Regions from separate parts of the Homo sapiens genome. Here region 1 is linked to region 2. The links come from fine-mapping of genetic effects on gene expression. Tissue or cell type: naive CD4 T cells. Region 2 holds a variant in brackets; the other region holds the start of a gene. All regions are shown on one strand. Distances are from middle to middle.

The links. PIP is the estimated chance that this variant, and not a neighbour inherited with it, causes the effect.
Region 1: it holds the start of GTF3A, and the variant in region 2 is fine-mapped to the expression of GTF3A in naive CD4 T cells (Schmiedel 2018, PIP 0.95).

Annotation. Positions count from the first base shown.
Region 1 is chr13:27,420,173-27,428,276 of GRCh38, forward strand. It overlaps GTF3A (general transcription factor IIIA), which reads left to right and starts at 4,447. Exons shown (of 9, transcript NM_002097.3): 1 at 4,447-4,766; 2 at 6,920-7,020. The coding sequence starts at 4,566. RefSeq lists silencers at 4,272-4,541, 4,552-4,611, 4,712-4,791, 7,865-8,104 and enhancers at 4,882-4,951, 5,902-6,121.
Region 2 is chr13:27,378,784-27,386,887 of GRCh38, forward strand. No RefSeq gene overlaps it. Among named protein-coding and RNA genes, the nearest start is that of GTF3A, 42 kb to the right of the region's middle. RefSeq lists a silencer at 1,036-1,223 and an enhancer at 2,149-2,836. The variant A/G (reference allele first, on the strand shown) is at 4,992.

The DNA.
Region 1 (8,104 bases), 41 kb after region 2:
ACAGCCTGCAGAACCATCAGCCAAATAAACCTCTTTTTTTTTTTTTATAAACTACGCAGCCTCAGGTATTCCTTTATATCAATGTAAAATAGGCTAAGACAAAGAGATCTGAGCATATATATTGGCTGAGGGGAAGCACCAGCAAAGAGGGTGTAGAAGTTAGCTACTGCCACAAAATTGCTGCATAACAAAACTACCCTAGAGCTATTGGCTTATAGTCATTTATGGTCACAGATCTGTGGATTGGCTGATGGTCAGCTGATGGGAGGCAAGGCTCAGCTGAGATGGCTCGGCTTTGCCCCTCACATCTGTCTTTTTCCTGAGACAGACTGATGCAGAAATGTGGTCCTTGTGGCAATGGCAGAGCACAGGGAGCAATACATGAGGTCTCTTGAGGCCTAGGCTTGGAACCTGCACACCGTCAGTTCCAACTTACAGAATGGAAGCACGTCATGTGGATGGACTCGTAGACAATGGGTGAGAAAATATCTCCAGCCCTCTTTACGGGCAAAACAAAGCCACATGGCAAAAGGCAGCTAATACATGACATTTACTCACTTGAGCAGGCACACCATAGTTCTGTTTAAGTTCACCTTCGAGGTTGACCTTCATGACTCCCAGTTTTATCCCCTCCAGACCAAAGCTGTTTGGGCCTGGGGAAGAGCTTGAACCCCTATTGGGCCAAAGGTTCTCTTTCAGGGGGCATTAGCCATGGGGAGTTAAGGGAACAGATTACATAAGGTCTGGGCTGCTTGAGTGGAGCCAAAGCCCTCAGAAAACTACAATCACAGAGGCAGAAACTCATCCTTACCGATGAAGCTGATCTGCAGAGAAGAGAGTGGAGAGACAGGCAGAGGTAAGGAGAGGCCTGGGCCTGAGAGGACATGAAACCTGGGAGGGTAGGTGGGCAGGAGGGAGGAAAGGGAAGGTCATGGGAGGGAGAGCTGAGCAACGCACACACATGTGCACACAGGACATGAATGCAGCAGTCTAAGAGATGACTGGAGAGCAAAGGGGGAGTGAGACTAAGGAGGACAGCAGATCCCAACAGTGACAGACTGAGACCCAAAGCGTTTGCAGACAACTCTCCCACCCTGAGGCCTTTCTGTAGTTGGTCCCGTGAGATCCCCTTGTATCCTTACAATAACTCCCTTTTCATTAGATTAGTTTGAATGGAATTATGTTCCGTGCACACAAAAGATTCCTTGCTGAAGACATTCATGTAAAATCTTTAAGGCTTCACACAATGAGTTCATAGTTGTTCATTCAACTAATAAATAATAAGGTTAGCCCTTCATGTATGCATGTCGTCTTGCTACTGAGGACTCGAAAAGAGTATCTTCCAGTCTCTAGCCTTATAGAGGTTAAATCAAGATCAGAGAAATTAGAAATTATGTGCCTAAATAGTTAAAAATAGCCCAACACATTTGAGCATTACTATAGAAAGAAAAGGCCACAAAAGTTCAAAGGAAGAGAGGGCGGGTGCGGGTTGCAGTCACCAGGGGAGGCTTATCTAGAGGAGGCAGAACTTGATCTGGGCCTGGACTTGAGCCTCAGGTAGGAAGGGGCCTGGAGGAGGCCTGCACCCTGGGCTTCCATGTCCCACCTGAGCATTGTTACCTGATTTGTAGGAATAATAGCTAGCAGGAATACAAATGCTTTGCAAATACTAGTGTTGTAAATTTAAACCTATAAAGTCTCGGGTGTTTTAGGGAGATGACACGGGCAGCTATAGGCAAGAGAGACTAAAGGCGGGAGAGTGTAAAGGCAGGAAAATCTGTTGACAGGCTGTTACAGGTGTCAAGGCCTAGAGCAAAGAAAAGCCTAGCAGAGGTGGGGAAGGAGGAAAATGGAAAGGACAGGTACAGAGGCCAGCTAGGGAAGTGCAGAGGAGAGAGCAGGTGATACTGTCAATGGTTTCCAACCCTGAATAAGAGACTCATTTCACTGGTATGGTGGCAACAGCATTTTCAAAAGCTTCCAGGTGACTAATGTGCAGCCAGGGTTGAGAACCACTGTTATAAGTTTTCGTGGCTGGAGACAGAATTATGCCACCATTGACAGAGAGAAAAAGGGCAAAAAGAGGTGTGGCCAGAAAAAGGCAGTAAGATTGACTTACAAAGAATGTTGAGTTTAAGGTGACTGCCTGACATTCAAGTAAAACACACACAGACAGACAGACAGACAGACAGACACACACACACACACACACACACACACAAACCAAACCCCAGTTGTCATCTAGAAATGTGGGATATTAGAAAAATTAGAAAAACACATTGGGGGCCAGGCGCAGTGGCTCACGCCTGTAATTCCAGCCCTTTGGGAGGCCGAGGCGGATGGATCCCTTGAGGTCAGGGGTTCGAGACCAGCTTGGCCAACATGGTAAAACCCCATCTCTACTAAAAATACAAAAATTAGCCACGTGTGGTGGTGCGCACCTGTACTTCCAGCTACTCAGGAGGCCGAGGCAGGAGAATCATTTGAGCCCGGGAAGTGGAGGTTGCAGTGAACCGAGATTGCCAAGATTGCACCACTGCACTCCAACCTGGACAACAGAGCAAGACTTTGTCAAAAAAAAAAGAAAGAAAGAAAGAAAGAAAAACACATTGGGAAGTAAACTGCAGAGAGAAAGGAGGTGGAGCTGTGGATCACAGGGTGAGAAAGAACAAAGAAAAAAGACCAAAAGTTTTTGAGTATACAGAGTGACCTGGATCCTATTAGCTGCTTTACGTGGAGAGTTGTTGGAAGAGCTGTAGATTGGTGGTAAATGTGTCTAGCATAGGGGATGGCACATAATAAATACAACTATTGGTTAATAGAATTTCATTTAATTTTAAAAATGACCCTTACTGGTGGGTATTAACAGTCTCAGTTTAAAGATAAGAAACTCAAAGAGCCCTTATCCAAAATCCTAGTTAGTAAATTTAGAGTTGGAATTCAACGTCAGGGGATTGAGGCTGAAAGCCAGCGCTCGCCTGCTATAATACATCAGCGCACAGGGCTAAGCACCAACCTAAAAAGGTGGAAGAACGATTGTCCAAGGAGACAGGACAAGTCAGGAAGGCAGGGGGAAGCCATGAGTATGGCTATGCTGCATGGGGTCAGTGGCCAAGAAAGGCCAAAAGAAAGGAGGATCTCAGAGATTTACCGTGCACCCTGGCCCTGGGCATGAGGCATGGGGAGGAGAAAACCAGAACTGGCGCAAGAGAAACCATTTTAGAATTCCGGAGTTGTGGGAGGGATGAGTGTAGAATTCTCCCATCCATGGACAGGGGCTAGAGTGGCAAATGAAGAAAGCAACAGGTGGACCCAAGGCATAGACACTCTCACAGCCCCGTTATCTTGAGACGGAGGATGACACAGGCGTTATCAACTTTCCCACTTTCAAGATGAGCAGACTGAGGCAAAGGAGTGTTTATGAACTGGAATACTCAGTTCATAAGCACTGATGTTAAGCCCTGGCTTGTTTCCAGAACTGCACTGCTGTGCAGGGACCTGTTCATCACATTCCGACAAGGGCTTAATGATTCGGAATAATGCAGGATGTGAAAAATATGGATCTGGCGAACATCCCCCAAGTCATCCTGCCAGTTATCTGTATCCAAGGACATTTTTTAGGCATGTGGTCCTCATAAACTAAGATACTCATATTCATTCAGGCCTCTCAAAAGTGCTTCTCAGGTTTTGATATGCACTGAATCACCTGGAGATTTGTTTCAAGTAGGTCATCAAGGCTCTAGGGCAGTGTTCCCAAACTTTTCCTTTTTTTTTTTTTTTTTTTCCAACCACCTGGTCAGTTTGCCGGGGTGGGGAAGGGTAGGATGGGGAGACATCTGTATTTATTCTTTTAGAGCTCGGGGTCTCACTCTGGGCTCAAGCGATTCGCCCGCGTACCTGGGACTACAGGTGCGCACTACTGTGCCAGGATAGTGGTTCCCAAACTTTTCTGCGCATTGAAATCACCTAGGAAGTTTCCAAAAATACTGATGCCTGTTTCCTACCCCCAGAAATTGTGATTTAAGTGGTCCAAGTATCCTCTAGGCTTCGGGATTTTGTAAAGCTCTCCACGTGAATCTGAGCTTAGGAACCTCTGAACTGGGGCTTGCAGCAGAAGCACGTAAAGCACGCAAAGAAACGAAACCACACAGGTCACACTAGTAATGTGGCAACAGGCTAACTTAAATTATGTAAGGCTAGTGCTTTCCAGAGTGTACTGGAGGACGGGAAACAAGCCCCATTTAAGCAGTGCCTCGGGATTTGAGTTGCCTGTGAAACGCAGCAGCCTTCTGCCGAGGACGCAGAAACCCCCGCCTCTCATCCAGGGCTGACAGGGCACGGGCCGCGAGCCGCGGCGGGGCCTCCTGGCGCATGCGCGATCTCCCGGAGCATGCGCAGCAGCGGCGCCGACGCGGGGCGGTGCCTGGTGACCGCGCGCGCTCCCGGAAGTGTGCCGGCGTCGCGCGAAGGTTCAGCAGGGAGCCGTGGGCCGGGCGCGCCGGTTCCCGGCACGTGTCTCGGCACGTGGCAGCGCGCCTGGCCCTGGGCTTGGAGGCGCCGGCGCCCTGGATCCGCCGGCCGTGGTCGCCGAGTCGGTGTCGTCCTTGACCATCGCCGACGCGTTCATTGCAGCCGGCGAGAGCTCAGCTCCGACCCCGCCGCGCCCCGCGCTTCCCAGGAGGTTCATCTGCTCCTTCCCTGACTGCAGCGCCAATTACAGCAAAGCCTGGAAGCTTGACGCGCACCTGTGCAAGCACACGGGGGAGGTGAGGGGGGCGAGGCTGCCAACCCTGGGCCTAGGGATGGCGCGTGGCCCCGGGGTAGCCACTGCAGTCGTGGCCAGGGCCGCAGGCCCCGCTGTGCAGCGCGTTCAGCTTTGACATCCAGGACTTGGGGAAGGAGCTGAGGAAGTAGACAGGAAGTTGTAGGACCTTCGTTCTGCGACCTTGATATCCATGGCAGGGGCTCGGGATTTACTAAGCAGTCATTGATCGTGAGTCTCGGCCAGCCAAGTGCCTCCCGTAATCTGCAAATAAGTGTGAGGTTTGAGGGGGCCCACCGCTACTAGACACCTGCCAAACACTGGCCCCTGGAGCTGGTACAGAAGATGGGTTACATGTACCAGGGGTCGTGAAAGCAGCATGTGCTCATTTCTTCGTAACTCCACACTGGAGAGAGCAGTGAGCAAAACAGGCAAACCCAAGGTTTCTGCTGCCATGGACCTTTGTTCCTGGGTCGAGCCGACCACAGGATAGGTGGGAATGACATGCAGTGTTGTGGTCAGGAAAGGCCTCTCTGTGTGAGCCGTGTAAGAAGGAAGGATCTAGCCATGCAGACATTTGTGCTAGGTAGAGAGAACACAAAGGGAGCCTGTGACCCTTGGGGTGGGAGGCAGGTGGGTGTGTTTGGGTGCGGAGATCACCATATGAGGTCTGAGAAGTAGGCCCATTAGGAGTTTGGATTTTATTTTGAGGGCAGGAGAATGTCAGATACCATGATATGACGTGGCAGCCCATGTCACACACAAGTGAGGAAAACGAGGGTCATGGAGGTCAAGGAATCTGCCCAGCTTCCCAGTTTTTGGCAGAGCTAGGCTTCACACTGCCTCAGCTTAAAGCCCTTAATTTCTTAAACCACTGGGCTGCAGTCCATACCTTTGCCCCTTGCACCTCCTCTAATTTATGGGCCACCTTCTCCAGGTGTCCTCCGGGGCCTCATTCCTTAACCTCTCCAGCACTGGAAGGCCGACCGCTTCTTCCTTGAGACCTTCTCTGGTTCTTTTCCTCTTCCTCGTCTGCCCTTTTCGTTGGATCCTCTTCTGCCCTCTGCATGTTCCACCCCGCCCAGCTCCCTCTTGCGGTCTTACATAGCCACCGGCATGACTCATAACATCCTTTATGCTTTGCCCCTCTGCCCTTCCTCTTGCCCGTTCTAGCCTCTAAATTCTGGGCTCTGTATTACCAGTAGATCCACGTAAGAGCTTGCCTTTCCTTTTAGACCGGTGTGCTGTATTTTGGATACTGGCGCTACCAGTTTCCTTAATACAGGTTGAAAAACTTGGAGTCATCTTTGTTGTCCCAGATCTCTCATGCAGATTAATTTGACAAATGTTTATTGAGCCTACTCCACGCCTGCCGCTGTGCAAGGTTCTGTGGCTCCGCCCCTGGTGGTATGTAGCTCACTGTGTTCCTGTTTGCTTGTTTTGCTCCTAGTACTCTCATGGAGGCCTCGGTGCCTCCCTCCTGGACGCCTTGGTAGTATGCTTTTCATAGTTTGATGCACCAAACTGGTTATTTGGTTATTTGGGGTGTGTGTTTGGCTTTTACTATAGGTTCAAAATGAGTCACCCCCTCCCAACTCCTGGGTTACAAAAGGTGGTTGCATTTAGGGTGTTGAGCTGTTTTCTTTGCTTCGCCCTGGCACCTGTGAGCTTTTTCAGGTGTGACACACTTTCCTATAGCTGTGCTTGGCATTATCCTAGCACAGACCCTGGGCTTGTCTGGGATGAGACAGGCCTCCCTCGTTCCTCTGCCCTAGGCTTGCTTTTTTACATGTTAAATCATGCGGTGGTGGGGATCCATGCAGACAAGCCATGCTAACAGCCAGGGCGTCTTTAAGAGGGGGTTGCTGTGAAAGCCTGCTGCCGGGTTGGGAGCAGGTTAAAAATGCTATGCCTGCTTATTTTAAATGCTGTTCATGGAACAAAAATCTGTGTAGTGACTTTGTGAGAAGTTGTGATGTTTATGTTGTGTAACTTTGTGCAGGAACACTGCGTCTTGCAGTGGGTGCACAGCTCTGAGTAGAAACCACCTCTTCATAGGAAGCCTGTGGCCTTAACACTAGGCAGTTTAAGCTTTTAAATAATACCAGAGTTACTAACTAGTGCAGAAGTGACATGCTTTTTCTTTTTTCCTGCTAGAGACCATTTGTTTGTGACTATGAAGGGTGTGGCAAGGCCTTCATCAGGGACTACCATCTGAGCCGCCACATTCTGACTCACACAGGAGAAAAGCCGTTTGTGTAAGTAGAGACCTGTTTTTAGGCTTTTGAAGTGGGTTGTGTTGGGCATATAGACCCAGTAAGAAGATTGATGTTAACTCACGAGATCAGGAATGTGAAGCCTGGCAGGGCTCGGTGGCTCATGCCTGTAATCCCAGCACTTTGGGAGGCGGAGATGGGCAGATCACTTGAACCCAGGAGTTTGAGACAAACCTGGGCAACATGGTGAAACCCCGTATGTACAAAAATACAAAAATTAGTCAGGGATGGTGGTTTGTGCCTGTAATCCTAGCTACCCAGGAGGCTGAGCTAACATAAAATGCTCATGGGTGGGGACAAGCTAAAGTATATCAACACAATGGGATACCCTACAGCCAGGAAAATGAATGCAGATGCTCTCTGCAAAGCCATGAGAAAATCACCAGGGCACTTTAATTGAAAAACCAAGGTGCAGAAGAGTCCTCTTTAGGCTACTTTTATGTGTGTAAAAAAGCTAGGGGGTAGGGGGAGGGGTGAGTAGTGGGTGTTGGGTAGGCAGGAAGCAACTATATTTGTATTTGTTCCTATTTGTAAAGAAGTCTTAAAAGTTACATAACAAAACTAAAAATGTCATCTGTTTTGGGAGCAGTGGGGGATCCTGGCCAAGTAGGGGGTGGGGATGGTAGGAAATGCCATGCAACCAGGAACTACTGGACATGACTCTTCCAGCTCATGATCTAACCCAGACCCTGCCCCTCTTTAGCTGTAGTTCCCCGTTTCCCACTGCTCGCTGGACAGTGCTACTTGGCTATCTCTGTGTCTTCTTAAATTCCATGTGGTAGGCTGGGTGTGGTGGCTCATGCCTGTAATCCCAGCACTTTGAGAGGCTGAGGTGGGAGGATTGCTTTGAGGCCAGGAGTTCAGGCTGGGCAAGATGGTCAGGTCCATCTCTATTAAAGAAATAAATAAATAAAAAATTCCACATGGCCCAAATTTGTCACAGTCAAACTGAGCTCACTTTTCTGTTTGATCTTCTCTCATGTTCTTGTCTGGAGAGGTGGCCTCGCTGTCTGTCCAGTGACCCATAGCAAAGATAAGGCAGCTCCCTGGACTCTCCATTCTTTCT
Region 2 (8,104 bases):
TCCTCGGCCTCCCAAAGTGTTGGGATTATAGGTGTGAGCCACTGCGCTTGGCCTGCCTTTTCACTCTCTTAATTGTGTTTTTGATGAACAAAAGTTCCTAATGTTAATATAGTTCAACTTATCTGTTTTTTTTTGTTTTTTTTTTTTATGGTTAGGGATTTCAGTGTCCTGTTTAGGAAGAGTTTTCTCTCACCTCAAGACCAGGAAGATATTTTCCTATTTTCTTCTAGAAACTTTATTCGTTTACCTTTCACATTTAGATGACCAATCCATCTGCAACTGATTTTTGTATATGGTATGAGATGGGGCCAAAATTTATTTTAAAAAAAGAAATACCAATAGCCAATTTCCCTAATACCAATTATGAAGACCATTTTTTCCTCTGTCCTCTGAGCTTCAAGTTTTGTCATAAATCCAGTTTTGTCTATGTATGTGTGGATTTATTTCTGGACTCTTTGGGTTTTTTGTTTGTTTTTTGAGACAGAATCTGGCTGCACACCCGGGCTGGAATGCAGTAGTGTGATCATGGCGCACTGCAGCCTTGACCTGTGCTCAAGCAATTCTCCCATCTCAGCCTCCCAAATAGCTAGGACTACAGGCACATGCCACTACGCCTGCATTTATTTATTTTTTATTTATTTATTTATTTTTTGTAAAGACAGGATTTCACCATATTGCCCAGGCTGATCTTGAATTCCTAGGCTCAAATGATCTTCCTGCCTCAGCGTCCCAAAGTGCTGGGATTACAGGCATGAGCCACTGTGCCTGGCCTGTTATTTTTCTATCCTTGCATCAATACCTCTTGGTCTTAATTACTGTATGTTTATAATAAGTCTTGGTTTCCAGTAATGTAGAAACTTCAATTGTAATCTTCTTGATGAATGTCTTACCTATTCTCGGGCTTTTGTATTTCCATATAAATTTTGGAAACAGATTGTTGATTTCTAAAAAAAGAAAAAAAGCGTTCTGGCATTTTTATTTGGATTATATTGAATCTATAGCTCAGTTTGGAAAATAAGTAATTTAACTTTTCTAAGTCCTTTTTCTCTTCTGAAAAAAAAAAGAAAAAATGGTGACTGAGCAATTTTTAAACTGGAAAAAATCACTACAGAAATGCTGGATTTTTATTATAAAATGAGAAGGAACACAGGCAAGGACTGGGGCAAGGTCAGCCTACAGTGGATTTCCAGAAGGTTGGAGTGACTCTGGAATCTGGTTGCCCTCAGGCGGCACTGGCCCAGGTTGCTGGAGCACGGGCTGTTCGGCTGCCGCTGGTTAGGAGTCAGGCTGGCTTCTAACTCAGAGGCTTGAGTCCAGGAAGAAGAGGCCGTGGGGTTTTCCTGCACCGTTGTTCCCATCCCATCCCCAGGGGGGCGCCACATTCCTTCTGATGATTGTGTGTTTGCCTTCCTGCATCTTTTTCTTTGTAGACTGGAAACTGCAGAGCAATCACATTACCTTTATTTTTCAAATGTGTCCACCGTGTGTCAGGCCCAGCTCTGGGTGGATTCACCTCCCCACTTGTTCTGTACAGAATGGCACACTTGGAGAGAGGACCAGATGTGCCAATGGGGAAAGGGCATCAAGACAGTCCCTCGTGACCCCCCACTGTCTCTAGGGTCCCCCTTCTGTTCCTTGGAGCACGTCCTGAGCCAACCTAAGGCCATTTGTGTGTTCATGTGACCAGGGCATAAAGGGGACACAACCTTCTTTCTCTGGAGTCAGCCTGTTTAGCAAACGCGAGGGTCTGACACCTCCTCTCTCCACACTCCCAGCCTCAGCCTGCCAGTTCCAGTGGTTTCTTTCAAAGCTTTCACTGCAGTCCCCTGAACAAATACTTTTTTCCCAAGAGGCGTTCCCCAGGCTGAAACAAGGGGAAGTAAATGTGACCCCACTGCATTGCCTCCCACAAGTCATTCTGCCTCCTTCATCCTGTCCTGGTCTTTGTCCTGTCCTGGTCTTCAGGGAGCCCCTGGGAGGGAGACCTGTGTCTGCAGCGGCCAGTGTCTAGCAGAGGTGGTGCCTCTATCCAAAGCCATGGCCCACTCTCCTGAGTGCGAGTGAGCCCCAAACAAACCTTGGAGAACCTTCCTGCTTTCAGGTGCCCCAGGATCCCTGAGCACTTCTGCCCATCTAGCCTCCTAGAGGAAGCCCAGTCGGGGGGGGGGTGGGGGAGGGGCGGTAGGGGAGTTAGCACCCTCTTGAGAAAAGCGGCAGGCAGGCAGCAAAGGAGAGAAGGATGCTAGCTGGAGTCTGTTCAGCCCAGGTGCCTGGGGAGGGTCCTCAGTGTCTGCAGCGGAGTCTGGATGTCCCTGCAATGGGCAGAGCCCCACATTGGGCAGGGCGGAGCTGGCTTGTTGAGGAGTCCTACCTGCCTCCACCATTCCCTGAGTGCTGAGTGGCGTGTGGGCTTTGTCTGGATGGCTGAAGGAACAGAACAGTACCTGTGGTATCCTTCTTTATCCCAGCCCCGCTGGACCCGGCCCCTATAAGGCAGTGTGGTAGGTGAACCCCCAGAGGACACCCTCAGACCCTCTTCTCGTTCCTGGGGGCGGGGGACGTGCTGTAGCCTGACCCCAGGAACATTGGGATTCCTACCTGTCCTATCCCCCCCTCCTGTGGGGGCAACCAGCCCCAGCTGAGGGGTACCAGATGTGAGAGTCGGAAGCGCACCCTCACCCTCCCTTCCCAGCAGCTGGCTAGAAGGCCTCTCTTAAAAGGCCTGGGTACCTGGCCGTGGGGTGTGGGGAGGAAGGAAGGGAGTGGGAGAGAATTAGACAAAGGAAGCCCACCATAAAACCAGCAGCAGGTCTGTAATCGTGACAGCCCTTTGTTTAGAGCCGGTTTAAACAAGTTGTGATCCTTTGGAAGGGGAGGCCATAAACCGAGGGGTGAAATAAAAGTGTTTACAGCAAGGGAGACCCAGGTGCTGGGGGGTTCGTTTGGCCAGGATCAATGCGGGAGCGGGGCCGGTGCGGCCTGGCCTGGCCTGGGCTTGGAGAATGGGCTTCCTCTTAGTGCCGGGCGGCTCCAACATCACAGACTCAAGCCCGACGAGGGGCGGCCCTCCCCACCCACACCTGCAGTCGAGGGGCAATCCCACATTCCAACCTGGGGGCACGGGGCAGGAGCCCGGGTCTGCACCATCTAGAGATTAATTGCCTGGGGCCGCAGAGCTTACAGTCAGCTTCTCTGCTTCTCTACAAATTCCTTCATAATGGACTTGAGGGAGTTACACTAATAAGAGGGTGTGAGGACAGTTGTTTCTCACAGACATGCCTCTTAGTCCCCACTTATCAGGCTGGGAAAGTTAGGGTTAGGGCCCGAGGGAGTAATATGGTTATATCTGACATGTCCCCAGCCCTGAGCCCCCCACACCTACCACCATTTCTGTCCTCCGCTCTGTTTAGCAATGCTGAATACATAAACATCACACAATCAGTCAGTCATTCCGTAAGTTTAACGAGCACTTCCGGTAGGGCAGACAACCAGGGCAGGGGCCACAGAGGTACAGGACACAGTCTCTGTCCTGAAAGTAGGGCAGTTTGGGGATAACTAGCAATAATATTCTCAGGACATGTCAGCTGGCATATACTCATGTTTTTAAAATAATTAATGCTCCCCAAGAATATATGTGTCCATGCAACACGATACCTTTGGAGAATGGCAGTACCAAATAAGACTAACATGGTCCTTGGAAGAATATCGTGCTGATGTCCTCCCCACGTAATTTGTTGTTTGTGCTCAGCAGGAAATGTTGCCAGACTTTTCTGCAAAAATTCACACTGAGGTCACACCTATACTAATAAGGAAAATGAGTAGTCAGAGGCACAAGACGGATCAGGCCCCTATTCTCCCTTAAGACATTTGTATGGCTCTTTAGCTTGCAACATTTGTGGAAGTGGGGCAACTACGTGGGGGCCTCTTAAAGAGAAAAGTCCCCATGAAAATGTCCCTTCTGTCGTTCATGTATTCAATTCTTGGATCAGCCTGGCCAGTTAAAGAGATGAGCTTTGTTCTGTAATACCCAATATGTTTTCTTCATTAGGAGAACAGTTCAGAAAATAAGCAAAGATGCCAGTTTCATCTTTAAAATGACTTCATTTTTTATAAATTGATTTCAAACACATTCTAGTCTGAGCCTGGCCACTCTGGTGACCTCCCTAGGACCATTTCCTTATTTGTAAAATAATCATATTTATAATCTCTGCATTCCTGCTTCGTTAATAACAACAACAAAACCCAAATAGGATTCTAAGTAGCATAGTGGCCTGATCAATTGCGCTGGTGGGAATCACATTCCTAATCACACAGTTAGGAAACATTTCGCGCCCTCCAGCATTTGGTAATATATACCATTTACTGGTGTAAGAGGCACGGGCCCCTCTGTCTCTTTCAGTGATTGATGCAAATTCTCTACTCTCCCAAAGCTCAGCTCCCTGGGGGAGAAGTCCTGGAGACTGTCCTTACTGTGCACTGTGAGGTTCAATAGGTGGCAGCAGCCTTTATCTCTGATGGCTGGCATCTTGCTGCCTTTGCTGAACCGGTTCCTGTGGGAACCGGTCTCCCCATTGCTCTAAGGCAGGAGTGTGTGTCCTTCAACTGTGATGCTGAGCCATTGCATCAGGAGCCTCTCAGATACATAGCTGCTGGAGGAGGACCAACCCTTGATATGGGGGTGCTGGGAAGGGAAGAGCGTGGTCCCTTTAAATGATACAGAAGGGGGTAAGGGAAGTGCAGGGTAGAGGAGGGCGTGGTCCCTGGCTAGGGCTCCACCCCCATGGACCTTGGTGAGGACAGGCATTTTTGTTGCATTTCCCAAGACCACCCTGGCCGACCTTCCACACCCTTATCCTGGACCTATAAAAACCCGAGACCCTAGCAGGCAGACACACAAGCCGCTGTACGTGGAGAAAAACAAATCGATGAAAGAAGACAAGCGGCTGGACATCGAGAGACATCAAGGGGAGCATGCCGGCAGAAGAGCACTC[A/G]GACAGATGCTGGCAGGCCATTGACCCGCGGAAGGAGGCGGAGTTTGGACGGGGCAGTCTGAGGAGAGCCTAGGCCGCCAGGTGGCCCAGCTCCACAAGGAAAACCATCTCCCTTCTGGCTCCCCCGTTTGACGAGAGGTACTTTTACTCAATAAAGCCTTGCACTCATTCTCCAAGCTCACGTGTGATCGGGTTCTTCCAGTACACCAAGGCAGGAAACCCCAGGATACAGAAATCCTTCTGTCCTTGTGATAATATGGAAGGGGATCTAACTGAGCTAACACAAGCTGCCTGCAGACAGCTAAACTCTTAAAAGAGTACCGTGTAACACATGCCCACTGAGGCTTCAGGAGCTGTAAACATTCACCCCTAGCCACTGCTGTAGGGTTGGAGCCCCACAGCCTGCCCGTCTGTATGCGCCTCTAGAGGTTTGAGCAGTGCGGCATTGAAAAGGCGAGGCGCACCCTCTATCGCAAGCCTTGCGAGGGGGACAGGGGAACTTTTACGTTTCAGCATCAGGAGAGCCAGCTCAGCCAGCTCGGAAGATCCTGAGAGAAGCCAGTACATGGAGATCGTGCCCCCCGGGTCCTGAAGGATCTGTTTTATGAGAGGAGAAAACACAGTGCAGGGAAAAGGCATGAACTTTCAGATTTGAGTCAGTTTTGAATCCCATCTCTGCAACTTAGTAATTGGACAAGTTATTTAACATCTCTATACCTCAGTTTTCTCATCTGCAGAATGGGGATAATAAGTACCCCCTCCCAGGATCTTGTTATGAGGATTACATGAGATGATGTCTATAAAGCTTCCTGGCGTTGTGAGTCCCTCCCTCCCTCCCTGCCTCCCTTCCTTCTCTCCCTTTCTTCCTTTTTCCCTCCTCCCTTTCTTCCTGTGAAACAAAATTTAGTATCACTCCCCACAAATTCTGAAAAATGAATTATAACAAAAATACTAAACCCTGTAGATGAGCCCTTCCTGTGTATGAAACATTTTAAATTCCTTCATCAAAGGAATGCAGTTTCACTGTCCGTATACACCGAATGGTGTTGAAGTGGTACTTCCGGTTCATGCACTGGAACAGACAATGGAGGTATAAAAATGAATGGAACGATCATTAAGCACAAGGCAAATGAACACAGAAACAGACAATTTCAAAGGCATGATGGATTTTGGGGGAAGACAGTGGAGGGCCCTGCCTGACTTGGAGCAGGAGCTGGGAGAATGGGGTTCTGGTGAGGTTAGTCTTCCTGAGAAAGTGATGTCTTTTGTAGAAAATAAATCTCTAAACTTTCAAGATATGTCAACTAAGTATCAACAAAATTGATTTAGAAACGATTAGTGGTGGATTCAATAGGAATAAGGATTTGCTTTGTATAAGGTCTCCTGACAAACAGCTCCTGGGTGTCTACTCATGAAACTGCACAGATGTGGAGATACAATGTATAAAAATGAATAAGAAATGACCTGTTCTCCAAGGAGCTTGTATTCTAACAAGCAAGTGAAAAACACTGTGATCAGCGTAGCTGATTCTCTGCTAGAAGTGCATAAAAAGTATATTGAAACTGTGGCTTCTCATTTGCAAAGTTCCTAGTTTTCAGCCACTAAATTATTTTAGGGGCCACTCTTTGCAGGTCCATGTTCCTTTCCCAGCCCTGCATGTAGGTGATTGGAATCTCAGAATTTGCTCTTGGCTGGGCAGCAACAGCCTATCTCTTTGTAAAACGGTTTGCAGTAACACTTACCAGAGAAGTGAGGCACTCATCTTACAGAATTCACTGGGGAGTGGGTCCAGGCCAGGCAGTGTTGGGGAGGACTTTAGATAGGGCAAAGGAGATGCAGGATCAGAGGCGTCTGGTCAGGTTGGCCACCTCCCCCGACTTCTGCATGCTGATTTCTTTCCTTGAGCCTCCTCCAAGAGTCCCGGCCTGATGGTGCTTGAGAGGTGGGCTCCAGATGGAAAGAGGGAAAGGAAGAAACCCAACATTTAGTGAGCATCTATTGCAAGCCAGGCACGTTCCATTGAACGGTGACATGGGCTCTGGAGATGGGCATGGTCCCTCTTACAGTTCGGGGAGCTGGGGCTTGGAGAAACCTGTCCCAAGACCCAGTGAACCTCGGAGCCGAGCCTGAGCTCCACCTGTGTGCTCCGCATTCTTTGCACACCTGTGCTTCCTACGCCTCACCATATGTGCTTAGTGGGGTGCTGGCAGATGAGGGCCAAATCTCAGTCACTTTCTCTTCATTACAGCACATGATGTAAACCTCAGTTTTATACTCTATCAGACTTGAACACATCATGGAGTAGAATGCAACACGTATGTGTGTGTTAAGGGTCAAGAGATCGAGGCCATCCTGCCCAACATGGTGAAACCCTGTCTCATCTAAAAATGCAAAAATTAGACGGGCGTGGTGGCCGGCGCCTGTAGTCCCAGTTACTCGGGAGGCTGAGGCAGGAGAATTGCTTGAACCCAGAAGGCGGAGGTTGCAGCGAGCCGAGATCATGCCACTGCACTCCAGCCTGGTGACAGAGTGAGACTCTGTCTCAAAAATAAAATAAAATAAAATAAAATAAAATAAAATAAAATAAAATAAAATAAAATAAAATAAAATAAAATAAAACAAAACAAAACATGATCTTCAAAGACATTTGAACTTTATTATCAATCTGTCTTCCGTTGTGCCCATCCCTGCACCCAAAGTGCCTGCATCATTCCAGCTCCCTGGGAACTCTGAATCAGAGCCCAGTGATTGAGCCTGCCTTGCTCATCACAAGATATGCACACATCTGCCGTGATCCACATGGAAAGTGCTTTGATTGAGTGCTGAATGCTGTGACGAGCATTAGAAATACAACAGGAATTCGGAGGGCCAGAGGTCTGGAGGGCTGGCAAAGCCAGGGGAGCACCTCTTAGGGGAGGCGGGTGTGGATGGCTGCAGAGGAGGGGTGACAGTCTGAGAATCCTGAATCCTGGAGGCGGCACTCTGATGTGTAGTGTGTGGACCCCAGGAGGCTGGATAGTAAGGAGGACTGCTGGGGAGGAGATGAACTGCTAATGGCAAGATGGGGATCCATTTATTAAAGGACCTAAGTCTTCGGTTTGCTATGAGACTTT